Homo sapiens: one gene and its partners. The protein of the gene in region 1 purifies or fractionates together with the protein of each later gene. This does not show direct contact. Each region holds a gene or a part of one and is shown in the gene's direction. Other genes may lie near its edges. The genes, in order: TNFRSF10B, FGFR1, CKAP4, RIPK1, NDFIP1, STX3 and SCAMP1.

What was found.
Region 2: the proteins of TNFRSF10B (region 1) and FGFR1 purify together in Homo sapiens (affinity purification with mass spectrometry; 3 studies listed by BioGRID and IntAct, with this or other methods). This does not show direct contact.
Region 3: the proteins of TNFRSF10B (region 1) and CKAP4 purify together in Homo sapiens (affinity purification with mass spectrometry; 2 studies listed by BioGRID and IntAct, with this or other methods). This does not show direct contact.
Region 4: the proteins of TNFRSF10B (region 1) and RIPK1 purify together in Homo sapiens (affinity purification with western blotting, with the first as the bait; 3 studies listed by BioGRID). This does not show direct contact.
Region 5: the proteins of TNFRSF10B (region 1) and NDFIP1 purify together in Homo sapiens (affinity purification with mass spectrometry; 3 studies listed by BioGRID and IntAct, with this or other methods). This does not show direct contact.
Region 6: the proteins of TNFRSF10B (region 1) and STX3 purify together in Homo sapiens (affinity purification with mass spectrometry; 2 studies listed by BioGRID and IntAct, with this or other methods). This does not show direct contact.
Region 7: the proteins of TNFRSF10B (region 1) and SCAMP1 purify together in Homo sapiens (affinity purification with mass spectrometry; 3 studies listed by BioGRID and IntAct, with this or other methods). This does not show direct contact.

The regions. Positions count from the first base shown.
Region 1 is NC_000008.11:23,059,032-23,062,531, reverse strand, and holds part of TNFRSF10B (tumor necrosis factor receptor superfamily member 10B isoform 1 precursor), read left to right. Parts: intron 1-3,500. UniProt on the Homo sapiens protein: Receptor for the cytotoxic ligand TNFSF10/TRAIL. The adapter molecule FADD recruits caspase-8 to the activated receptor.
Region 2 is NC_000008.11:38,423,636-38,427,135, reverse strand, and holds part of FGFR1 (fibroblast growth factor receptor 1 isoform 1 precursor), read left to right. Parts: intron 1-890; coding exon 891-1,014; intron 1,015-2,436; coding exon 2,437-2,627; intron 2,628-3,500. UniProt on the Homo sapiens protein: Tyrosine-protein kinase that acts as a cell-surface receptor for fibroblast growth factors and plays an essential role in the regulation of embryonic development, cell proliferation, differentiation and migration.
Region 3 is NC_000012.12:106,241,521-106,245,020, reverse strand, and holds part of CKAP4 (cytoskeleton-associated protein 4), read left to right. Parts: intron 1-3,500. UniProt on the Homo sapiens protein: Mediates the anchoring of the endoplasmic reticulum to microtubules. High-affinity epithelial cell surface receptor for the FZD8-related low molecular weight sialoglycopeptide APF/antiproliferative factor.
Region 4 is NC_000006.12:3,102,994-3,106,493, forward strand, and holds part of RIPK1 (receptor-interacting serine/threonine-protein kinase 1), read left to right. Parts: intron 1-1,231; coding exon 1,232-1,322; intron 1,323-2,428; exon of another isoform or gene 2,429-2,488; coding exon 2,489-3,058; exon of another isoform or gene 3,059-3,500. UniProt on the Homo sapiens protein: Serine-threonine kinase which is a key regulator of TNF-mediated apoptosis, necroptosis and inflammatory pathways.
Region 5 is NC_000005.10:142,125,779-142,129,278, forward strand, and holds part of NDFIP1 (NEDD4 family-interacting protein 1), read left to right. Parts: intron 1-3,500. UniProt on the Homo sapiens protein: Activates HECT domain-containing E3 ubiquitin-protein ligases, including NEDD4 and ITCH, and consequently modulates the stability of their targets. As a result, controls many cellular processes.
Region 6 is NC_000011.10:59,789,876-59,793,375, forward strand, and holds part of STX3 (syntaxin-3), read left to right. Parts: intron 1-643; coding exon 644-711; intron 712-2,231; coding exon 2,232-2,340; intron 2,341-3,223; coding exon 3,224-3,297; intron 3,298-3,500. UniProt on the Homo sapiens protein: Potentially involved in docking of synaptic vesicles at presynaptic active zones. Apical receptor involved in membrane fusion of apical vesicles.
Region 7 is NC_000005.10:78,423,117-78,426,616, forward strand, and holds part of SCAMP1 (secretory carrier-associated membrane protein 1), read left to right. Parts: intron 1-3,500. UniProt on the Homo sapiens protein: Functions in post-Golgi recycling pathways. Acts as a recycling carrier to the cell surface.

The DNA.
Region 1 (3,500 bases):
AGAAAAACAGTAGAGGCCGGATGTGATGGCTCACGCCTATAATCCCAGCACTTTGCGAGGCCAAGACAGGAGGATTGCTTGAAGCCAGGAGTTTGAGACCAGCCTGGATATGGCAAAACCCTGTCTCTACAAAAAATATAAAAAGCAGCCTGGCCCGGGGGAGCACACCTGTGATCCCAGTTACTCGGGAGGCTGAGGTGGGAGGATCACTTGAGCCCCGGAGATGTAGGTTGCAGTGAGCCAAGATCACATCACTGCACTCCAGCCTGGGCAACAGAGTGAGACTCTGTCTCAAAGAAAGAAAGAAAAAGAAAAAAGAAAAACCATAGAGAAAATCCACAAAACCAACATTGATTCTTCAATACTATTAATTAAACTGACAGAATTCACTAGTGAATTCTAACAAGCTTTTAATGAAGAGCTAATACCACTACTTCTCAAACTCTTTCAAAAACTTGAAGAGAAGGGAACCTTTCTTGACTCTTTCTGTAAGGCCAGCATTGCTCTGATACCCAAGCAGATAAAGATATTACAAGAAAATAAAGCTATATCCCAGTATCCCTAACTGATGCAAAAATCTTCAACAAAATACTATCAGAGAGAATTCAACAGTACCTTAGATGGATTATACACCATGACCAAGTTGGATTTATTTCCGGAATGCAAGAATGTTTGAACAAATGAAAACTGAACAATGTAATACATTGCATTAATAGAATGAAGGGGGAAAAAGACACATGATCATCTGAGTTGATACAGGGAAAGCCTCTGATAAAATTCAAAGCCCTTTCATGATGAAAACACCCAGCAAACTAAGAATAGAAGAAAACTTCCACAACATCATAAAAGCCATGTAAGAAAACCCCACAGCTAACATCATACTCAGTGTTGAAAGACGGAAAGCTTTTCCTTTAAGATTAAGAACAACATAAGGATATCTACCCACCTTTGCCACTCAGCATAGTACTGGAAGTTCTAGCCAAAACAGGCAAGAAAAAGAAATAAGAGCATCTGGACTGTAAAGGAAAAAGTAAAATAATCTGTGTTTTCAGATGATATGATCTTACTGGTAAAAAATCCAAAAGATTTCACAAAAAATTAAACTGCCAAAAATAAAATAATATTAAATTTTTAAAATTTTGAAATTTATTGTTGTTCAGTAAAAGACAGTACAGATTGCAATCTGGGAGATTTCAAACCAAGTGGTAAGAAACTTGCCTTACAGCAGGTATAGTACAGGCTATAAAGGAGGATGTATTTTGACAATTTCATGATTGACTTATAAATTTATATTCTTTTTAAAGGCAATCAGAGCTGTTTAAGCTGATTTTTCTATAGCTGCTTGATTTAACTTCACTGAACCATATTATGTCATGATGAAGGTGTAAAACTTATATTTTGTGGGATTTTTTATGATTATAGCTAATGTTTCAGGGATATCAGGATGTCTTAAGTTTTGGCTACATGGTTATGGGTAATTGCCGTGGGGTATATCTAAACTGTGTTTTTAATTTTTATTTAGTAGTACTAAAATGAATTCATCAAAGAAGCGGAATACAAAATCAACTGGAAAAGTCAATTGCATTTCTATACACTACCAATGAACAATTCAAAAAAAGAAATTAGGAAAAAATCCATTTACAATAGTATCAAAAATAATAAAATAGGAGTAAACTCACCAAGGAGGTGGAAGACTAGTACAATGAAAACTATAAAACATTACTGAAAGTAATTAAAGAATACAAAAATAAATGGAAAGATATGCCATGATTATGAATTATAAGACTAATTATGTCAACATTTCCTAAAGTGATCTATACATTCAATGTAATCTCTATCAAAATCCCAAGGACATTTTTGCAGAAATGAAAAAATGTATCCTAAAATTCATATGGAATTTCTAGGGACCAGAATATCCAAAACAATCTTGAAAATGAATAAAAATGTAGTAGGATTCACACTTCCTGATTTTCAAAACTTCCTACAAAGCTGCAGTAATCAAAACAGGATGGTACTGACATAAAAGCAGATAAATCGATCAGTGGAATAGAATAGAGGAGCCAGAAATAAACACTCACATATATGGCCAAATTATTTTTCACAAGGATGCCAAGACTGTTGAATGGAGGAAAGGGCCGTCTTTTCAATGAAGGGGGCTAGGAGAACCGGATATCCACATTCAAAAGAATGAAGTGAACCTTAGCCTAACATTGTATTTAAAAAATAGCTAAAAACAAATAAAAGATGTAAATGTAAGTGCTAAAGCTATAGAACTCTTGAAAGAAAATATAGGATAAAAATTCTGTGACATTGGATTTGGCAATAATTTCTTGGATGTGACACCATGGACATAGGCAACAAAAGAAAAAATAAACATTTTGGACTTCTTGAAAATCAGTAACTCTTGTGAATCAAAAGATACTATTAACTGGATAAAAAGGCAAAACCCACAGAATGAGAGAAAATATTTTAAGTTATATATCTGATAAGGGCTTAATATCTAAAATATATAAAGAATTCCTACGATCTAACAAAACAAAAACAACCCAGTTAAAAATGGGCAACTGATTTTTATAAACATTTCTCCAAAGCAAATATACAAATGGTCAATAAGTATATGAAAAGATACTTTAATCACTAATCATTAGGGAACTGCTGGTCAAAACGACAGAGATACCATCCTATACCCATCAGGATGACTATTATAAAAAACACACACAGGCCGGGTGCGGTGGCTCATGCCTGTAATCCCCACACTTTGGGAGGCCAAGGCAGGCGGATCACGAGGTCAGGAGATTGAGACCATCCTGGCTAACATGGTGAGACCCCGTCTCCACTAAAAAAAAAATACAAAAAAATTAGCCCGGCGTGGTGGCAGGCGCCTGTAGTCCCAGCTACTTGGGAGGATGAGGCAGGAGAATGGCGTGAACCCAGGAGGCGGAGCTTGCAGTGAGCTGAGATGGCACCACTGCACTCCAGCCTGGGCGACAGAACGAGACTCTGTCTCAAAAAACAAAAACAACACACACACACAATAAGCATTAGCAAATTTGTAGAGAAGTTGGAACCCTCGTGCCCTGTTAATGGGAATGTAAAATGGTGCAGCCACTATGGAAAACAGTATGATAGTTCCTCAAAAGTAAAAACAGGATTAGCAGATGATCCATCATTCCCACTTCTAGGTATACGTCCAAAAGAATTGAAAGCATGGTTTCAAACAGATATTTGTACACCCACGTTTATAGCAGTATTATTCACAATAGCCAAAAAGTGGAAGAAACTCAAGTTGGACAGATCAATAGATAATGTGGTATATTCATACAATGGAGTATTACTCAGCCTTGAAAAGGAAGGAAATACTGGCACATGCTACACAATGGATGAACATTAAAGACATGCTCAGTAAAATGCCATTCATAAAAGGACAAATGAAATAGGATTCCACTTGAGGTACCTAATGTAGTCAAATTCATAAAAACCAACAGTAGAATGTTGGATGC
Region 2 (3,500 bases), about 15 Mb from region 1:
AAAGGGTGTAAGCATTTTTTTTTTTTTTTTAGACGGAGTCTCACTCTGTCACCCAGGCTGGAGTGCAGTGGTGCCATCTTGGCTCACTGCAAGCTCCACCTCCCAGGTTCATGCCATTCTCCTGCCTCAGCCTCCCGAGTACCTGGGATGTGCAGCCACCATTCCCAGCTAATTTTTGTATTTTTAGTAGAGACGGGGTTTCCCCATGTTGGCCAGGCTGGTCTTGAACTCATGACCTCAAGTGATCTGTCCGCCTGGGCCTCCCAAAGAGCTGGGATTACAGGCTTGAGCCACCGCACCCAGCCAGAAATATTTTAAATTAATTCACCATGCACTCACTACATGCAAGACACCATGCTTTAAATGCTGCAAGATAGCGTTCCTGCCCATAAAAATTTTGCAGTCTGATAGGAGGCAAATGTCCATGAGCAGCTACCGTAAAAAGTAGACTGTGATCAGTGCTTTGGTAGGCAGAGAGGAAAGGGTGAGCACAGTTCTGACCAGAGACTGGACTGGAGGAGATGGTTTTTGAAATGAGCTGTCAAGGACAGTGGGGGCTGGATTCTTAGTGTAATAGGAGAGGTGCACAGTTGGGAACATTCTTGGTGTATTTGGGAGTGTTTGCAGAAGGCACATCTGTCCGGATCACGAATGATCTTGAACGTCACAGTGGAGACTTCTGGAGTCTTTACACCCCATCTGCCAGCTTGCAGAGTGTGAACGGGCTGGTAGGGGGGCAATCCACGCCTTGTCCTAGCCAACCCTGCAGCCTGGGGCCCTGTGCCACCAGGCTCTGATATGGAGGGCAGGTGCCACGGGGTGCCGACATTGTCATGGGGCCTGCATTTTCCTCTGGACCCTCAATGTATCCCTTTGGCATTTCCCCTCAGGTCCGTTATGCCACCTGGAGCATCATAATGGACTCTGTGGTGCCCTCTGACAAGGGCAACTACACCTGCATTGTGGAGAATGAGTACGGCAGCATCAACCACACATACCAGCTGGATGTCGTGGGTAAGAGGGCAGAGGCAGCAGGAGGAATGAGTTTAGTGGGAAGAGCCAGGCTTGGAGAACACAGCCGGGGTGTCCAGGTTTCTTAGGGGCAGAGTCAGGATAGCGATTGGCACTTCTTGGCTTTGTCACCTTGAGCAGGTCACTTCTCCCTTTTGAGCCTCACTTTTCTTATCTGTAAAATAGAGTTAAGATCAGACAGTAACACGGTCAAAGCTGGTTGTCACTGTGAAATTGAAGGTGCTGTTCAGAGTCTGTCCTGAAGGAGGCGTTGTTGGAGAGGTGTTAAATGTAGCGTAATAGGAGCTGTCGCTTAATGCTAGCAAGATGCCAGGCTCCTTAAATACCTGCCCTGTAATGCTCATGGCACACCTGCAAGGTGGGCAGTATTAGTCTAGCCCTGCACAGGAGCACAGGCGCATAGGCTCAGAGAGGTCAGACACCTTGCTAATGCAGAACTGCACACCTGTGCCAACTTCAGGGCATCACAGGAGACTCTGGGAAGAACATTGAGCCTCTTGGAGCTATTACCGCAACCTTTTCCTTCTAGGAGTTCTGAAACTCACTCCCTAGAGATCATTGGGTACAGAATCTCTCAGCCAGTGTTCTTCTTGATTATGATGATATGGTCTAAGAAGGAGATTGTGGCCAGGAGCAGTGGCTTATGAGCTCCAGGTGGCATGATGGGATTACTCACGCCTGTGATCCCATCACTTTAGGAGGCCAAGGCTGGAGGATTGCTTGAGGCCAGGAGTGTGAGACCAGCCTGGGCAACACAGTGAGACCCTGTCTCTATAAAAAAATTTAAAAATTAGCCTAGTGCAGTGTCATGTACTTGTAGTACCAGCTGAGTTAACTGAGGCTACTGAGGTGGGAAGATCACTTGAGCCCAGGAATTCGAAGCTGCAGTGAGCTATGATGACACCCTTGTGCTCCAGCATGGGTGACAGAGTGAGACCCTGCCTTTAAAAAAAAAAAAGGTAAAAAGGAGATTCTGATCCAAGAGGTTGGGGTAAGATCTGAGATTCCGCGTTTCTAACAAGCTCCTAGGGGATGCTGGTAGCACTGCTCGTGGACCACACTTTGAATAGCAGGAGTCAAAGTGACTCTGGTTTTTTAAGGAGGAGCAGGTTGTGCTGAGGTCTGGGGGTGCAACTGAATTAGAAGGTTCTCCATTAAAGCATGAGCGACTTACTGTGACTGTAAATATGATGACTGCCTTGGGGAGGAGGATCCTGATGGCTTAGGGCCTGAAGAGAGGGTGTCCCTTTCCCCAGCTCTGTTTTGAGAGGCTTGGGCTCAGCAGAAGTGCTGGGAGGTTTACAACCCATCACTGGGAAAGCCAAGTGGGGCGCAGGTGAGCCCACCCCTCTTTAGCCATGGCAAGGTCCCCATGACAAGTGCCTCCTCTCCCATCTTCCACAGAGCGGTCCCCTCACCGGCCCATCCTGCAAGCAGGGTTGCCCGCCAACAAAACAGTGGCCCTGGGTAGCAACGTGGAGTTCATGTGTAAGGTGTACAGTGACCCGCAGCCGCACATCCAGTGGCTAAAGCACATCGAGGTGAATGGGAGCAAGATTGGCCCAGACAACCTGCCTTATGTCCAGATCTTGAAGGTAATCATGGCACCAGTCTTCGTGGGCCAGTCTACTGGGAAGGAGACCACTGTCTCGGGGGCTCAAGTTCCTGTGGGCAGGCTCAGTTGCCCCCGAATGGGATCATTCCTCACGCTTCAGGCACACACACTCCATCTCAGTAGGGATCTAGCCACATCCCCCAGGACTAGTAACAGAGGTCACAAAGTGGAGGTGAGCTGGGAACAGAGGGCTGCAGGGATGGGTGGTGCTGGTCTGTAATAAGCTTTGAGAGCAACGTCACTGGGGCTTTGGGGTCAGCTACACAAGGAAGGCATTTGGACCCCTGCCTTTTCATTGCCCGAAACCAGAGCCTTTCCACCAAGCGTTTCCCAGTCTTAGCCCTGTGTCCTGAGTTACGTACGATCTTTCTGGCAAATGGGGTGCATGATAAGAGCATCTCTTACGAAGAGTTGGAAAAACAAATGCCATATATAAATTCTAAGCCATATGAGGACGAGGAGTAATGGCATTTTCTTCCTTTTTCCTCTCACTCCCAGACATTCATTGTCCCTGAATGCTCCATTAATCCAGGGAAGGTAATTGCCTAAATCTCCAGTGGATCTCGCAACAGGAAGGAACCAGAAGCTGGGAAAGTTGTTTACCTCTTTGTCCCAGAGTTAGACCTCATCCTCCCCTAGCTTAGCTGTCTCAGAGATATACTGGCCCTCCCTTCTCTTCTCTTTGCTGCTGGTGCTAAAACTGCTCTGTAGGTCATTGGCCACTGTCTCCACTCACAACCCCTGCTCCAGTCCTGGAGGGAGTGGGTTAAACACAAATAGAACATTCCATTTGAAGCAGTGATTCTTTTTTTTTTTTTTTTTTTTTAATCAAATGCTTTGGACTTTTGAAGTC
Region 3 (3,500 bases), on another chromosome or scaffold:
ATCCAGGTTAATTCTCTGTGCTTCTCCCTGCCCCTCACTTAGTCCCTTCTTTTTGCTTCTCACCCCTTCTCCATCACAGCTATGTATATAGATCACTTTCTTCTTTGGGGCTCAGTTTTCCCACCCACACAATGAGAAGAGGGCTCCATCCAGACTTTTAAGAATCCTCATGGCTCTAAAATAATTGAAATAGTGACTTCTCTGTTTTTTATTTCATATTTTATATTTCGTAGAGACAGGGTCTCACTCTGTCACCAGGCTGGAGCGTAGTGGTGTGATCATAGCTCACTGCAGCCTTGAACTCCTGGCCTCAAGTGTTCCTCTTGCCTCAGCCTCACAAGTAGCTGGGACCACAGGCATGCACAAGCACGTCCAGCTATTTATTTATTTTTAAAATTTTTGGTAGAGACAGGGTCTTGCTGTGTTGCTCAGGCTGGTCTCAAACTCCTGGGCTCAAGCAGTCCTCCTGCCTTGGCCTCTCAAAGTGCTGGGATTACAGATGTGAGCCACTGCGCCTGGCTGACCACTTTTCTTTTAATTTAGTAGTGTAATCAAACTATAATTTAATGTGTCATATTTATGGTGCACTTATTACGTGCCAGGCACTATGCAAAGCATTTGAAAATGCATCATCTGCTGACTCTCACAACAACCCCAAGAGGTAAGTACTATTATCAGCCCTCTTTGACAGATGAGAAAAGTGAGAGGCTAAGTAACTGAGCGGTGATATAGCTAGTTAGTGGCTGGGCTAGGATCCAAACTGTTGTCTAACTCCTGGAACACTATTAACCACTCCACTATTTAGCCTAGTACATAGTAGGTGCCCAATAAATGTTCCATTGACTTGAGACTCAGAACATGGCCAGAACAGTGTTAGATTTGCCATAGAATGTGGCCACTCTGTCTGTATCTTTGGGGTGGCCAGTAAATAAATTATTTTGCATTGAGGAACCAGTTGTGTTTGGTTCTCTGACAGCCTAAGTTTGAACCCTTTTATAACTCTTGGTTACTTGTTGGGGGGTGGAGTTTGGTTCATAGCAGGGAAGTATACTTACAGTATTCATAATTACTGTTCACTATGGGTCAGCCATGCTATTAAATGCTTTATAGCCATGATTTCTGTTCTCCCAGCCACCCTCTGAGGCAGGTATCATTTAGTAGTACCATTTTGCAGATGGGGCAGCTGAGGACTGGCTGTGTAACTCATTCAAGGTCACACACAGACCATAAGTTGTGTAGCTGGAGTTGGGTGCCCACCTGTCTCTTGTTCTCCAGATGTTCTTGTTATTGGAGAATGGCTCAAATCTTCTGAATGACTGTAGCACAGGCAGAGAGGCAGGCCTGTCCTTACCCAGAGGATTCAGCAGGCACAAGTGGGTCCTGGGCTTCAGAAAGTGTTGGCAGTTCATCTCTAGGCCCTCTGAAGAGCCTGTGTTGCCCTGGCAGATCCAGCGTGATATAAAGCAATGGTAGGAGTAGGCTTAGGCCTGGTAGGGACAGTTTAATGAGACTAGGACCTATTTGTGGAAGAGTGAGCTCCCTGGTCATATTTCTTTGTTTTCTTGTCTAGATTCTCTGGCTAAGGAGTCAGGGCTTCAGGAGTTGGCAGTCTCTCTTCCAGGTACTCAGGGCACTTTGAAGTCAGTGCCCCTGCCTGAGCATATCACATACTGGTTGAGAGCTCAGGTTCTGAAATCAAGCATTTTGGGATTTTAACGTTTGAGCCTACCACTTACCAGTTTCCTCATTAGTAAAATGGAGATCACTGGGAGATACCAACTCATGAGATTATGGTGAGGGTGTAATGAGATGATGTGTCTGAAGTCCTTTGTATAGTTATTGGTCCATCACAAGTGTCCGGTTGAATGTCAACCACTGCTAACACCCAGTCCCCCCACCCTAGGGTGTAACCTTGAGGGCAAGGATCCTAGCCATTATTTCATCTCTGGCATCTTGCCTGTTGCCTACCACTTAGTGGGCATCCCACATTTGTTGGGGGAACAGATATTTCCAATGCATATTGATGATAATGAATTATTTGCACATAAAGATGCACAACTCATAGTCCCCTCAGTAGGGGAACACCATGTTCTTTTTTATAGTGTTGGGGGTTGGATATAATTTCTGTTCTAGTCTCCTTCCTAACCATTTGTGAAGAGCCAGCGCAGGTCAGGGCTGACAGGGATCAGAGGAGACATGGACCAGCTCATCAGGCTTTGCTTGAATTCCCTCATTATGTGATTCCATCAAAAAACACTGGATGAAAGCCTGCCATGTTGAAGGTACTGTGCTCACCTGCTCACACCTCTGTTCTGAGTGCTATGCTTAGAACAGGCAGACAGTGTGATTTAATAACGTAGTTTCAGAGATGGGCTCTCTCCAGTACCTTCACAGAGTGTCCTTTAAGACTCAGGTTGTATTTGGTTGGGCAGGGAAATTGTCTAGTATTCTGGAGCCCCTGAGAACCTTATTCTAATCTGCCTTAAAACAGACTGATGGAGCTAGACAGCACTTTAGAGACCTATTTGCTATTGGATGAGGAGCCTGGGACTCGGAAAGTGAATGTGACTCTTCATGCTTACAGAGCTGGCTACTGGTGGGGCTGGCACGAGAGCTGAGGGATGTTGTTCACATCCCACTTCAGTTTATCCTCCTGCCTTTTGGCATGGGTTGAGGATATTTCTAGGAATCTGCAGACTTACCAGGTGCTTCAGAAGAAATGGGAAATAATCACGATGATAATAGCTGCCATGTATTGAGTGTTCACTATGTGCTGGGCACAGTTTAAGTACTTGATATATTATTAATTCACTTAATCTTCATACAGACAATCATATGAGTCCGGTACTGTTTTCCCATCCTTCAGCTGAGGAAACCAAGGTACAGATAGGCTAAATAACTTCCCCAAGATCACACTGCTGGAAAGTGTTAAAGTTATGATTTGAACCTAGGCAGTCTGGCTCCAGAGACCGTGCTGTTTTATTTTTTAACTTTTTATCATGGCAGTGTTCAAGTGTAAACAAAAAAAGAATATAATGAACCTCAGTTTCAAGAATTACTGATGTTTTGCCATTCTTTTTTCATTCCATCGGCACTCTTCCCCTCTGCCACTTTTTTTTTTTGGCTGGAGTTAGAAGTCTGACTGTGAACCACTCTCTTGCCCTATGCGTGCCCAGCCTGGTCTCCCTTCTTCTCCAGATGCTGTTGGTGTTGCATGGCCATAGCACAGGCAGAGAGGTTGTCCTGTCCTGAAGCCAGAAAATTTACTAGGCAGAAGTGGGTCCAGGGCTTCAGAAAATGTTGGCAGTTCAGCTTTAGGGCCTCTAAAGAGCCTGTGTTGTCCTGGCAGATCCAGGGGATAGTGAATTAGGAATTAGTTTTAAAATGAGGCCAGGCGCGGTGGCTCACGCCTGTAATCCCAGCACTTTGGGAGGCCGAGGCGGGCGGATCACGAGGTCAGGAGATCGAGACCATCCCGGCTAAAACGGTGAAACCCCGTC
Region 4 (3,500 bases), on another chromosome or scaffold:
ATCTTACCAACACTTTTTATTTACCATTTTTATATTATAGTCACTCTAAGGAGTGTGAAAGTGTACCTCATGGTGGTTTTGACTTGCATTTCCCTATGACTCATGATGTTGAGCATCTTCATGGCTTATTGGCCATTTGTATATCTTCTATGGAGAAACTGCTATTCAAGTTCTTTGCCCATTTTTGAATTGGGTTGTTTGTTTTTTGTTGTTGAGTTGTAGGATTTTTTTTTTTTATGTTCTGGATTTCATCCGTTTTCAGATATATATTGTTTGCAACTTTTTCCCCATTATTTTATTTTATTTATTTATTTTTTTTTTGGAGACAGAATCTTGCTCTGTCGCCACCCAGACTGGAGTGCAGTGGCAGAATGTTGGTTCACTGCAACCTCTGCCTCCCAGGTTCAAGAGATAACTCCTGCCTCAGCCTCCCGAGTAGCTAGGACTACAGGCACACACCATCATGCCTGGTTAGTTTTTGTATTTTTAGTAGAGACAAGGTTTCACCATGTTGGCCTGGCAGGTCTCGAACTCCTGACCTCATGGGATCCACCTGCCTTGGCCTCCCAAAGTATTTTTTCCTTATTCTGTAGGTTATCTTTTTACTCTTTTCATAGTATCCTTTGATGCACAGAAGCTTTTAATTCTGATGTATTATTTTTACTCTTTACTTTTGTTTGTGCTTTTGTGTCATAACCAAGAAATCGCTGCCAAGTCCAATGTCATGAAGCTTTTTCCCTGTGTTTTCTTCTAAGAATTTTTGTGGCACTAGCCCTTAAATTAAGTCTTTGATCCATTGTGAGTTAATTTTTATATGGTATGAAATAAGGGTCCAACTTCATTATTTCATATGTGTATATTCAGTTTTCCCCCATCGAATGCTCTTGGCAACCTTGTCAAAAATCAATTGGCCATTTATAGGAGGGTTTATTCCTAGGCTTTCCATTCTGCCCCACTGGCATATGTGCCTGTCTTTATGCCAGTCCTACGCTGTTTTGAATACTGTAGCTTTGTAGTAAGTTTTGAAATCAGGAAGTGTGAGTCCTACAACCTTGTTCTTTTTAAAGATCATTTTGGCTATTTGGGAAAAACATTAATTTTAAAAAATTACTACTTGTAAGATCTGTGTGAAATTTCTACCTTCTGAAAATATGAATTCTTCTCGTTAAAATTTTCTGGGACTCTATTTCCTGCTGTTCACTAAAGTGTGTATTTATGCTCTTAATTATAGAAAGAGTATTCAAACGAAAATGCAGTTGTGAAGAGAATGCAGTCTCTTCAACTTGATTGTGTGGCAGTACCTTCAAGCCGGTCAAATTCAGGTAAATTACACTATGGTCAAAATCTATTCATTTATTTGTTTGGTTACTCATTCACTCCACTCTCTAAAAGACTATTCAGGACCATATGGGAAACAGAAGAAACTATAAAAGTGAACACCTGCCTTACAGGAATTTATAATAATATTCGAGAGTCAAGTTACATGTATTTGAAATATGAAGTAACAGTGTGCTCACCAGTCATAGAGTGTTCTGAACAAAAGGCCTAATATATCTGATGGGGAGAAGTGACAGTTCAGAAGAAGGAAGGGGACATATGTGAGAGCAAAGTCCCTGAGGAGCTCGGAGTGACTTACAGCCAGGGTACAAGCAGAGAGGCTGGTCTCAGGTCAAGTAGGGATACTTTTTTCACTGTAACAAAAGGGATGGCAGAGTATAGGATACTGAAGCCGCTTAGCTACCTGATCTGTGGCTAATTACTTAACCTCTTCTAAACTTCACTCATCAAATCATAATTGCTCCTCCTCTCATAGGGCTCTTCAAGAATGAAAGAATTCATGGGACATGCTTAGGACAGAGCTGCTGCAGATCTTTTTTTTTTGGAGACAGAGTCTGTCACCCCGGCTGGAGTGCAGTAGTGTGATCTTGGCTCACTACAACCTCCGCCTTTCAGGTTCAAGCGATTCTTCTGCCTCAGCCTCCCAAGCAGCAGGGATTACAGGCATGCACCACCATGCCCGGCTAATTTTTGTATTTTCAGTAGAGATGGGGTTTCGCCATGTTGGCCAGGCTGGTCTCGAACTCCTGACCTCAGGTGATCCGTCCGCCTCAGCCTCCCAACGTGCTAGGATTACAGGCGTGAGCCACCGCACCCAGCCACAGATCTTATTTTCCACCTGAATTGCTCCAAGGAGACAACCACCTTCTCTGCTCCAAACCAAGTCCCTTTTTTCCTTGATCATCCCTGCAACAGCCGCTTTTCTCTTGCTTGCTATAATTTTCCTAGTACTCTCTTACTGCCAGCGAGGAGCTCCTATTATTATTTGTAAAGCTTGTGGGAAGAGGACCATCTCCTAAATGCTTTGGACTGGTCTCGTACTTGTTTTCTGTGTGTTACTTTGAGATACAGATTCATGACGGCGCTCAGATTTTATTTTACTTTTTAATGTTTCATGACACCCATTCTAATGTTGATCATTTCTTCTCAGCCACAGAACAGCCTGGTTCACTGCACAGTTCCCAGGGACTTGGGATGGGTCCTGTGGAGGAGTCCTGGTTTGCTCCTTCCCTGGAGCACCCACAAGAAGAGAATGAGCCCAGCCTGCAGAGTAAACTCCAAGACGAAGCCAACTACCATCTTTATGGCAGCCGCATGGACAGGCAGACGAAACAGCAGCCCAGACAGAATGTGGCTTACAACAGAGAGGAGGAAAGGAGACGCAGGGTCTCCCATGACCCTTTTGCACAGCAAAGACCTTACGAGAATTTTCAGAATACAGAGGGAAAAGGCACTGCTTATTCCAGTGCAGCCAGTCATGGTAATGCAGTGCACCAGCCCTCAGGGCTCACCAGCCAACCTCAAGTACTGTATCAGAACAATGGATTATATAGCTCACATGGCTTTGGAACAAGACCACTGGATCCAGGAACAGCAGGTCCCAGAGTTTGGTACAGGCCAATTCCAAGTCATATGCCTAGTCTGCATAATATCCCAGTGCCTGAGACCAACTATCTAGGAAATACACCCACCATGCCATTCAGCTCCTTGCCACCAACAGGTAAATGGGTCTTCGATAGTCACAAGCTTGTCTTTTTTTATTTTTCAGAAAATACAGCAACCAAGCAGCTCTATTATAGATTGTGGGTTATAATGGGGACAGAGGGCATCATCAGCTGCCAGATGCAAATTGCCCCTGTGGAATGGACCCTGCCAAACCACTTGGTCTGGGAGTATTTCATCTGGGGCTAGGATTCATCACAGATGCCCGCAAGCATCGGGTTACAGGTCCTTGTGACTGGCAGGCATCTTTGACTCTAACCTGGAGTGCATAGTAGTCCTATTTCACCCAATCTCTGATAAATGGGAAGTTATCTGCTTATTTGCTTTTACCTTGCTTGCTACTTTTTGAAGGTAAGAAATCAGTCTTGGATATTTTTGTTTCTGACCTTATATAGCTCAAAGACTACCATTAGTGATGAAAAATTTTCTTTTAACTCCCA
Region 5 (3,500 bases), on another chromosome or scaffold:
TCTGTCTTTTTTATTATAGCCATCCTAGTAAGCATGAAGTGGTATTGAGTCTTGGTTTTGATTTGCGTTTTCCTGCTGACTTAATGATGTTGAGCATTTTGTGTCTACTGGCCTTTTGTATATCTTCTTTGGAGAAATGTCTGTTCAAATCATTTGCCCATTTTATAATTGGGTTGCCTTTTTATTGTTTAGTCTCTCTTATCTTGTCAGAATTATTTAAAATATCTTCCCCTAATTAATAACAATTAGATAGAGAATTTTTCTTGAATGTAAATAATTTGGTGATGTTAGAATAACAGAGTTTATATTTACAATATATAAAGTAAATGTACAGGCCACACAAACTTAATGATTATTTCTGAACAGCAGTAAAATAGCATACTCAGCTGTTTACCAAAAGAAATGTGCTTGTTTACTTTTTGTAATTATACTGCCTTGTTTTGGTAGGATTTAGGGACTATGCAGAAGTAGTGGGTTGGTAATGAGAGCTTTAAAAATTGCATTTTAAGGTAAAAGTTTTAGCAATTAACTCTAAGATAGAAGTAGTAAATAACATTCAAAACTAGAGTTCAAGCATTGACCCAGAATTTTCTGATATTTATTTTTAATAACTTAAAGAAGGGACTTGAAACTTACAAGAATTTTCTTGCTGTTTAAATATGACCAAACCAAGAAAAAATTAAGTAGTGAAAATACTTGCAACTTTATGGACTTACTGGATACTTCAGCATTATTTTTCACGTGCTTTGTTTGTTTGTTTGTATGAATTCTGAGGTGTATGTTGATACCTTTTCTCATATATAAGGATTTATGGGTTTTGTTTAGTGTAGGGTTTTTTGTTGTTCTCTCATTCTTAGTAAATATAGATAATCCAAGAATGACTTTTAAGTGCCTTTAGGTCCTGCCATTTGCTACAGTTATAAATGTTGCCCCTTGCTTAGCCCTAATCCTAGCCCCAGCTCTGCTATTGCTTAAAAACAACTCATTTTAGAACTGCTTAGTGAGGAGGGCGGTGGTGAAGCTTTCTTGCTGATTGGGAACTCAAATAATAGTTTAAATCTGTAGGGTATAATGTCTTAAACGTGTTAAATTCAAGTTTGTTTCTATTAGAATTAGAACTATATATGATTTCTGTGTTGGAGATTCATAAAAATGTCATATTTATTTTTAATAACAATAGGACCTAGATACAGAGGAAGGTGATAAGGAGGGAAAAAAAAACGCTCTATTTTATTTTATTTATTTATTTATTTTTGAGACAGAATCTCACTTTGTCGCCCAGGCTGAAGTGCAGTGGCTTGATCTCAGCTTACTGTAACCTCCACCTCCCCGGATCAAGTGATTCTCGTGCCTAAGCCTCCCGAGTAGTTGGGACTACAGGTGCATGCCACCACACCTGGTTGATTTTTGTATTTTTAGTAGAGACGAGATTTTACCATGTTGGCCAGGCTGGTCTCAAACTCCTGACCTCAAGTGATCCGCCCACCTCAGCCTCCCAAAGTGCTGGGATTACAGGTGTGACTTGAGAACAAAACCTTAGTAGCACCTATTTGTAAATAAATGTTTTCTTAAAATTGAAGGTCATCAAGGCCAAAGGCACCATGGCAGATTGTGACATATCTGAAGTAGGAAGAGTTTTAGGGTTCTTCTGGGGAGCCATTCTAGTCTGCTCAGCACATAGAAGGGAGCAAAGGTAATCAGGAAAAGAGTAATGGCACACTCTGGGTGTGAGAAAGTGAAAGGTCATCTGAATTCTCAGGTGATTGGATTATTTATTTCTTAGCGATGGAGGCATAGGTAGTTATAGGTAGTTCTGTATTAAACTCTACTTTGTATGGCCTGTGTAGGTAATTGTATAGCTGTATTTGGAAAAAATGCCATTTAAATCATATTTCAGCCGGGTATGGTGGCTCACGCCTATAATCCCAGCGCTTTGGGAGGCTGAGGCAGGCGGATCACTTGAGGTCAGGAGTTTGGTACCAACCTGGCCAACATGGCACAACCCCATCTCTACTAAAAATACAAAAATTAGCCAGGTATGGTGGTGCATGCCTGTAATCCCAACTACTTGGGAGGCTGAGGCGGAAGAATCACTTGAACCCAGGAGGCAGAGGTTGCAGTGAGCCAAGATGGTACCACTGCACTCCAGCCTGGGTGACAGAGTGAGATTCTGTCTCAAAAAAATAAATCATATTTGAAGTTTAGTAAAATTGGTCAGAAATTATATGACAGGAAAAAAAATCCAGTGTCCAACAGCTATTTATTATCTATCACAGTCACTCAAAGGATATCCCCCCTACCCTTGCCCAACATCTCTGTGCACTGAGAGCAGAAGTTCCCAGATCTGTCCCAGTTTTCAGATCTGTCTCTCTGAGTATCCCCTACAACCCAGATTCTGTGACAGTTAAATTGGACTCGGGCTTCCACTGACCCAGTTGATGGAAGAGACTGAGCATCTTTCCAACTCTAACCCAAACGTGACAATGCCGCGTATTCTTTCAGAAAGTGTCAGGAAAGAGCCCGAAGATCCCTGAGCTCCAGGGACATGGCAGGGAGGCTGCACAGAAGGGTTCCCAGGGGTGGAAAAGGGGAATCTTAAAAATAAATTTTGGAACCAAGTAATCAATTTTATAGCACACTCTAGTTCTAGCGCACATGGTTCCTCCACTTGTTAGTGAATGCCTGACTTGTTGCCCCTGAAGTGTAAAAAGATGTATATTTAAGGATTCCATTGTTCAGCAAGTTATTATGCATGCAGATGGCAGGCACTAAGTGCTTACTCTTTTTGAAGGTGATTGCCTCTCCCCGCGATCCCCCTACATTGCAGTGTTTTGTTTTAAACAGCTTTCTTGATGGAGCCTAATCTTATCACCAGCATTATAGAAATAAGCCAGAGTGAGAAGCCTGTACAGTGAGGTCTTGGGATTATACCATAGTCATAATGGTGTTTTAAATTGTTTTTATTTTTCAATTGAAAAAAGTACACTATTCTAAAGTAGTGAATTTTAGTGGAGCAAACTCTTCACCTGGAAGTGTTTTTTTCCTTACCAAAGTGAAAATTGGTGGTTCTAAGAAGGCTGGAATTTATTTGCACTGTCATCTTTTACTATGGTGGGGGATGATCAAATTTAACATTTCCAAGTTTCCAGGAGACAGGCAGCCTATCTTATAAATATTGTCATAGAAGACCTCTTAACCTCTTTGTTCTTTGGATTTCTGTATTTCTTAGAATTGTCATGCTTCCTTTCTGAGACCTAAATTATGCAGGGGTAACGTGATTACTTTGACACCAAGCTCAGGAAATATAAAACGGGTTAAGTATAAACCAAGCTAGGTTTAAATGAAGTTCATTACTGGCTACAGTATATTAAGGGAACATATTCGAAAAGTCTGTATTTGCCTTTGTTCTTGCTGCTGACTCTTCTGCTTCTTTTGGTGACCTTCCCACAGCACAAGAGTGGTTAGGTGTGAGGAGGCTAAGAATACCTTGCCAAGAGCTT
Region 6 (3,500 bases), on another chromosome or scaffold:
TTCAATGAAGCTACTGTCATAGATTCAGTTCTTCCAGAGCCTAGAAGGTTTACTTAGTTCTGTTGCTAGAGCCTGCATTCTTGCCCAGTGTATTTGGTGCATGCATGCTATTGATCAGAAGAGAAAGCATTATTGCTCAGCTCAATTTACCATTTCTTCCCCCCAAGTATATTGCAATAACTATTTTAACTGGAGGAGTCATTAGTAGCAGATTCCAGTAATAACAGTGATAGTGCACCTGCCATTGTGCTAGGCACTTTATGTGTCTTCTCATTTAATCTTCACATTAGTATTGTGAGGGAGGGACTGTTATTCTGTTTTACAGATGAGAGAACAGGTACATTAAGAGGGGTTAAGTGGCTTTTTCAAAGTCACACCCAGTAAGTGCCAGGGCAAGGATTCAAGCCTAAGTCTCATGGTGACCAGAACCCATGCTGTTAACTGTTATGCCAAAACCTGGTCATCGTAAAGGCTGTGGAATGCACGTCCTGTGGCTCATCTGGGAGCTGACCTTTTGAGGTGACACCTACCTGTTACATCTCCGTGGGCTGGATGTGTGGGAATGAGTGAGGAAGTTTCACTGAATAGCATGTTTCTTGGAGGCGGAGATAGGTTGCAAGTATAACCTTCCTCTCCTCTTTAGGCATGGAGAAGCATATTGAAGAAGATGAGGTCAGGTCATCGGCAGACCTTCGGATTCGGAAATCCCAGGTAAGACTTTTCCTGGTCTCATGATTAGCTAGTCCAATCTCTTATTGTTTTCCCTTAACTGTGGAGGGATTTTTTTTTTTTAATACAATCCTTATTTTGAAACTCAATTTGAAGACCTGGTAAAGGAGAACTCTCCAGGTTGAAATAGGGGTCAGGGCCAGAGTCCAGCCCTTTTGGCTCCTCTCCTGTACTCTCCTTCTCTAAGGAGGCCCCTGAAGAGCTTTTCAGGCTTCCTAGAGCACAGCTTAGGATTTAGCGTGCCTTCTTGTTTTACAGGAGAGGAAATTAATGTCTTCTAACAATTGTTAGTCATTGGTTGTCCAGTTTGGAGCTAGGCACTTTAGGGGTCATCAAAGATAGGATCCTTGTCCTTAAAGAACTGGCATGCCATTGAAGCGGCATGGAAAGCTATTACCTAAGACCCAGCAGGAGGATGCGACCCAGCAGGAGGATGCGATAAGAAGACACATGCATGGTGCTCTCAGCATCAAAAGATCTCAGGAAGAATGGGGGGTAGCCAGAGGAGGCTGGGCCAGAGTGCCAACATGAGCAGCCTCAGGAAGTAGTTTCCCCTCTCTGAGAGGCACAGGGGCAGGAGTGAGGCACGCACATATGTGTGTGTTGGCAGCAGTGGTTGGTAGTGGTGGTGGGTAGACGTAAGGGGCAGACGTGAAGACAATAGGCTTTCTGTAGAAAAAAGTTTGCTGTGGGATAGTGGACACATAATTTTTAGTAGATAATGTAGTGCCACATTCTAGAGGTCTTTGAGGACCAGTCTGGGGAATTTGGATCTGATGTTATAACTTACAGGCATTTGCTTCAGGCGGCAGTATATTAGGAGGATTATTATGGTAGCCATTTGAAAGCCGTTTACAAGTGGGAAAGAAGCAGGAAACTGGAAGGTCCCTAGTTAGGTTTTTGCAAGGGTTTTGGTCTAAATTTGTATGGTGGTAGTGGGTTTGGAAAAAGTATATATATTGGCGATTTTCCAAAGGAGAAACCAGTAAGTAGGGCTTGATGCTGAGAGGTGAGCAAGGAATAAAAATTATTAGGAAGGTTTTAGCTTAGGCATGCAGGGCTGTTGAGATAATGCATCTACTTATAAGCAAGAAGAGTTGGGGAGATGAGTTTAGCGTAAGAACTCAAGGATCTTTGGTAAGTATGACATGTGGGAAGGGAATCTGACAGTTTTAGAATGCAAGCCAAGTGTTGTGCCAGAAAAATGCTACTAGTCCATGTGGATGTAGGGCTCAGAGATTTAGAGATGACCTCTGGCCTCGCAATTACCACGTGAGGTCAGCAGTAAACCGGTTTCAGTAAACTGGTGCTGAAACCATGCTCTGGAAAGGGCAGTGGACTCTCCCAGTGGCACAAAGCTAGGAAACAAAAAACTTGGTTTGACACCTGGTTTTTTGATTCCAAGTCCAGTGCTATTGTAGATGGCTATGTGGGGGTGGGGAGGGGTTCTATAACAGTTACAGAACCACTGGGGCCTGACTGCATTTTACATCATCCCACAGCACTCTGTCCTTTCTCGGAAGTTTGTGGAGGTGATGACCAAATACAATGAAGCTCAAGTGGACTTCCGAGAACGCAGCAAAGGGCGAATCCAGCGGCAGCTCGAAATTAGTATGTACTTGAGGTTTGGCGTGTGCCCTCCACCTTTCCTGCCACCTGGTTGTCCATCCCAAGTTTTGAGGCCCTGGTGGAGCAAGCAGGAAGCACATTTTGTGCCTAAGTCTAGGGCAGCTCCTGCACCACTGGCACATCCCGAATGCTGTGCTGTAGGCTGAAAGGTGACACCGTGTTTATCAGGCCCAAGTAATTTTATTGTATGGGGTCCAGCATTGTCTCCTATATAGAGGGGAAATGCTTGCCAAACAGTTGCTCTCTTGTGGACTCATTGTATCATTTTGCTGTCTGTTTGACAGCAAAGCACATTTAAGAAATAAAAAGTGTGGTGTAAGTTGCTGGGAGGATAAAAGTATGGTGTAAGTTGCTGGGAGGATTAGAGAAATAAATAAAGCCATACCCTTTAGGAATGTAGTAATGTGGAAGGCAGGGCCCCGTGGAGTGGAAGGTGCTTTGGATGAGAGGAATGGTATGAACATAATCAAGAAAGAGCAAGTGTGTTTAGGAGTGGCAGGTTGTCTAGGGTCTGGAGAAAGGGTGTGTCTGGAGTAGCATAAGGTTAGGATGGATTGAGGGAGGGCTTGCCCATGAACTAGCATGTTATGAGGGCCTTGGACACCATAGTGTAGTGAATGGGGCAAGGAAATGTTCTGAGCTGGGAAGCAATGTAATGAGATAAGTGCTTTAGGAAGGTAACTGCTGATAGTGTTAAGGATGGCTTGGATTAGGGCAGAAATAAGATGAGTCAGGAGGCAATTGGGGGAGTGTTGTAAAGGCCACGGTCTTTATAGGGAAGTCACGTTCCTAATTTTCAGGGTCCTTATCAGATGGTGTTTCACCGTGATCTTATATTTGACGCTCTACTTCTTTTGTTACAAAGCTGGCAAAAAGACAACCGATGAGGAGCTGGAGGAGATGTTGGAGAGTGGCAACCCGGCCATCTTCACTTCTGGGGTGAGTGCCCTGTGTGCTCGGATAGCACATCCCTCTCGTGAGCAGGGAGGCCACTGCGGAGCTCATGCAGTCCAGCAGGTGGAGGGGGAGCTGCAGGTGCAGGGAGTTCAGGGAGGCAAGGAGCTCCCCAGGAGCGTGCATGAGGGCTGTGGCAGGGGCAGCCTTTCTTGCAGGGGTAGCTAACAGTCTGTGTGTGGCCTGTT
Region 7 (3,500 bases), on another chromosome or scaffold:
CATTAGGGAATTTGGAGAGAAAATGTATCAGACAATGAAGAAGTAAATTATTACTTAGAAATGGCATAAAGAGAAGAAATGATGAGAGGAGGAGTGAAGGGAAGAAATGATGGGAGAAGGGAAAGGAGAAAAGAACCTTTGGATACATTGAAATATGGGAGATTGGTTGCCAAGGAACGGGGAGAGCTTCTCCTGTAGAGATGGGTTGGAGAGGAATGAAAGGAACATAGTTACTCCTTGCATGATCTGAGTTATTGCTGTTATTTTCTTCGTTATCTAAGCATGGCTCACAAGGCTTTTTCTGTTTTTTGTTAGTTTGTTTTGTTTTGTTTTTTTTGGACATCTAACCTCTGCCTAATGACCTCCATCACATTACCAATATGTTATCGATCTGTGATGATGCTGGCTGGTGGGAGTGAGGATATCTTTATGAAACTTTTCAAAAAAGTGACCTGAGACTAGGGAATTTGGATTTTAAACCTTCTGTTACTTATGTAGCCAAAATAAATGACTAAAAGCCAGCTTTGTGCCTTTTATTTCCTGAAGTCACTTGGTATCTTTTTTTTTTCCCCCATTTTGGCAGTTGAAATAAAAATGCTTGGTGGAACATTTTTACTTGTGGCATTATTGATCCCTAGGCTGAGTTTTTAGCTGCATCTCAGTCTTTTAGAGTATATACAAATATATTAATAATCTGGTTTTCACTGTGCAGAGTAGAAATGAGAGGAATACTTTTTTTTTTTTTGAGATGGAGTTTTGCTCTTGTTGCCCAGGCTGGAGTGCAATGGCTTGATCTCGGTTCACTGCAACCTCTGCCTCCTGGGTTCAAGCAGTTCTCCTGCCTCAGCCTCTCAGGTAGCTGGGATTACAGGCATGCACCACCATGCCTGGCTAATTTTGTATTTTTAGTAGAGACAGGGTTTAACCATTTTGGTCAGGCTGGTCTCGAACTGCTGACCTCAGGTGATCCGCCCACCTTGGCCTCTGCCCACCTCGGCCTCTGCCCACCTCGGCCTCCCAAAGTGCTGGGATTACAGACATGAGCCACTGCGCCCAGCCTCGAGAGGAATACTTTTTATGGGGAAAGTTGAATTAAAGTATTTATAATCATTAATATACCTTCCTGTTATGTATCTTTGGCATTTCCTTATATTGATATATTTACAGGACTTTGTTCTCCGTAAGGTAAACTCATTGTAAAAATCTCAAGGAAAATTATATAGTGAAGTTTCAAATGTATGTGTTTTTAAAAGTTAAGTTTATTAGGTATCAGGATTAAACATGAAGTTGTCATTTTGTTATTTATGTAGTTTACAAAGATTGTAACTTGGGGCTGGGCATGGTGGCTCATGCCTGTAATCCCAGCACTTTGGGAGGCAGAGGCTGGCGGATCACATGAGGTCAGGCGTTTGAGAACAGCCTGGCCAACATGGTGAAACTCCATCTCTACTAAAAATACAAAAAATTAGCTGAGTATCGTGGCATGTTTCTGTAATCCCAGCTCGAGGCAGGAGAATCGCCTGAACCCGGGAGGCAGAGGTTGCAGTGAGCCAAGATCGTGCTACTGCACTCCAGCCTGGGCGACAGAGTGAGATCCTGCCTCAAAAAAAAAGAAGAAAAACAACAAAAAAACCCCAACTTGGTCCTGAATTTTGTACTTCCACAAATCACTAGGCATTATGCAAATACATCAAAATATTAGGTAATTATTAACAAGGCAGCATTATTGTTGAATGTTGTTGAGTAACTATTAGAAACAGACTGAGAAAGAGTATTTGCATAATGCTTAGTGATCTTGGCTTCCCCACTTAAAAAGCTGTGCGGTTCTGAGCACATGCAGTAAAACTCAGAGCCTCAGTTTGTTAGGTTTAAATGAGGGATATTTGTAGAGTTGAAAGAAGGATTAGAGATAATGTATGCAAGTTTTGCATTATAGATGGTGAATAAATGGTAGCTGTAATTAATTTTTAACTTTTTTTGGACCCTCTTAGATTTTATCATTTACATTTTATGATCTATAAGTGAACTGTGATTTCTTATAGATTATATTTTACAGAGCCATTATTTGTAGCTTTGAAGACAATTTTCAAAGTAGTACTTTCTCCCACTTTTTAATTATGATGTATTTAATGCATACCAAAGAATACCTGAAACACAAGTTAAAAGGCATAATAATGAGTCATCTATGAACTGTGAGCCCACTGGTCAATTTAAGAAATGGAACATTATCAATACCGCTGAAGCACTGGTATGTTTCCATTTCCCTGCTCCATAGGTAACCATTAGGTTGAATTTTGATAATTTTTGCTCATTCTCTAGCATAATTTTAGTTTTTCATATATATTTGTACTCCCAAACCTTTTTTTAGCTTGTAGAGAATATTTTTAAAAGTATTTTAATATTTATAAAAGTGATACATCTTTGTATACAGGTTATTTTATATGCAGTTTTAAGTAGCTGTGCAAATACTTTTTTGGTAAAATAAAGACCTGTTTTAATCCTTTTCTACCAACAGTTCTTGCCGCTGACTTATGTGGGCATTTACCTTTATATTTTAAATAATGATCATATACTGCCATTCCTTGATTTTGTTTAAGTAGCTTTATTAGGATATATTGTATATACTATAAAATTCACCCACTCTTATGGGAAAATTCAATGATTTATTTTATTTTATTTTACTTTAAGTTTTGGGATACATGCGCAGAATGTGCAGGTCTATTACATAGGTGTACGTGTGCCATGGTGGTTTGCTGCACCTATCAACCCATCATCCAGGTTTTAAGCCCCGCGTGCATTAGGTATTTGTCCTAATGCCCTCCCTCCCCTTGCCCCCCACCCCTGACAGGCCCTGGTTTGTGATGTTCCCCTTCCTGTGTCCATGTCTTCTCATTGTTCAACTCCCACTTAGAGTGAGAACATGAGGTGTTTGGTTTTCTGTTCCTGTGTTAGTCTGCTGAGAATGATGGCTTCCAGATTCCTCCATGTCCCTGCAAAGGACATGAACTCATTTCTTTTTTATGGCTACATAGTATTCCATGGTGTATATGTGCCACATTTTCTTTATCCAATCTATCACTGATGGGCATTTGGGTTGGTTCCAAGTCTTTGCTGTTGTGAATAGTGCTGCAATAAACATATGTTTGCATGTGTCTTTATGGCAGAATGATTTATATTCCTTTGGGTACATACCCAGTAATGAGATTGCTGATCAAATGGTATTTCTGGTTCTAGATCCTTGAGGAATTGCCACACTGTCTTCCACAATGGTTGAACTAATTTACACTCCCAACAGTGTAAAAGCGTTCCTATTTCTCCATGGCCTTGCCAGCATCTGTTTCCTGATCTTTTAATAATCACCATTTTAACTGGCATGAGATTGTATCTCATTGTGGTTTTAATTTGCGTTTCTCTAATGACCAGTGATGATGAGCTTTTTTTCATGTTGGCTGCATAAATGTCTTTTGAAAAGTGTCTGTTCATATCTTTTGCCCAATTCA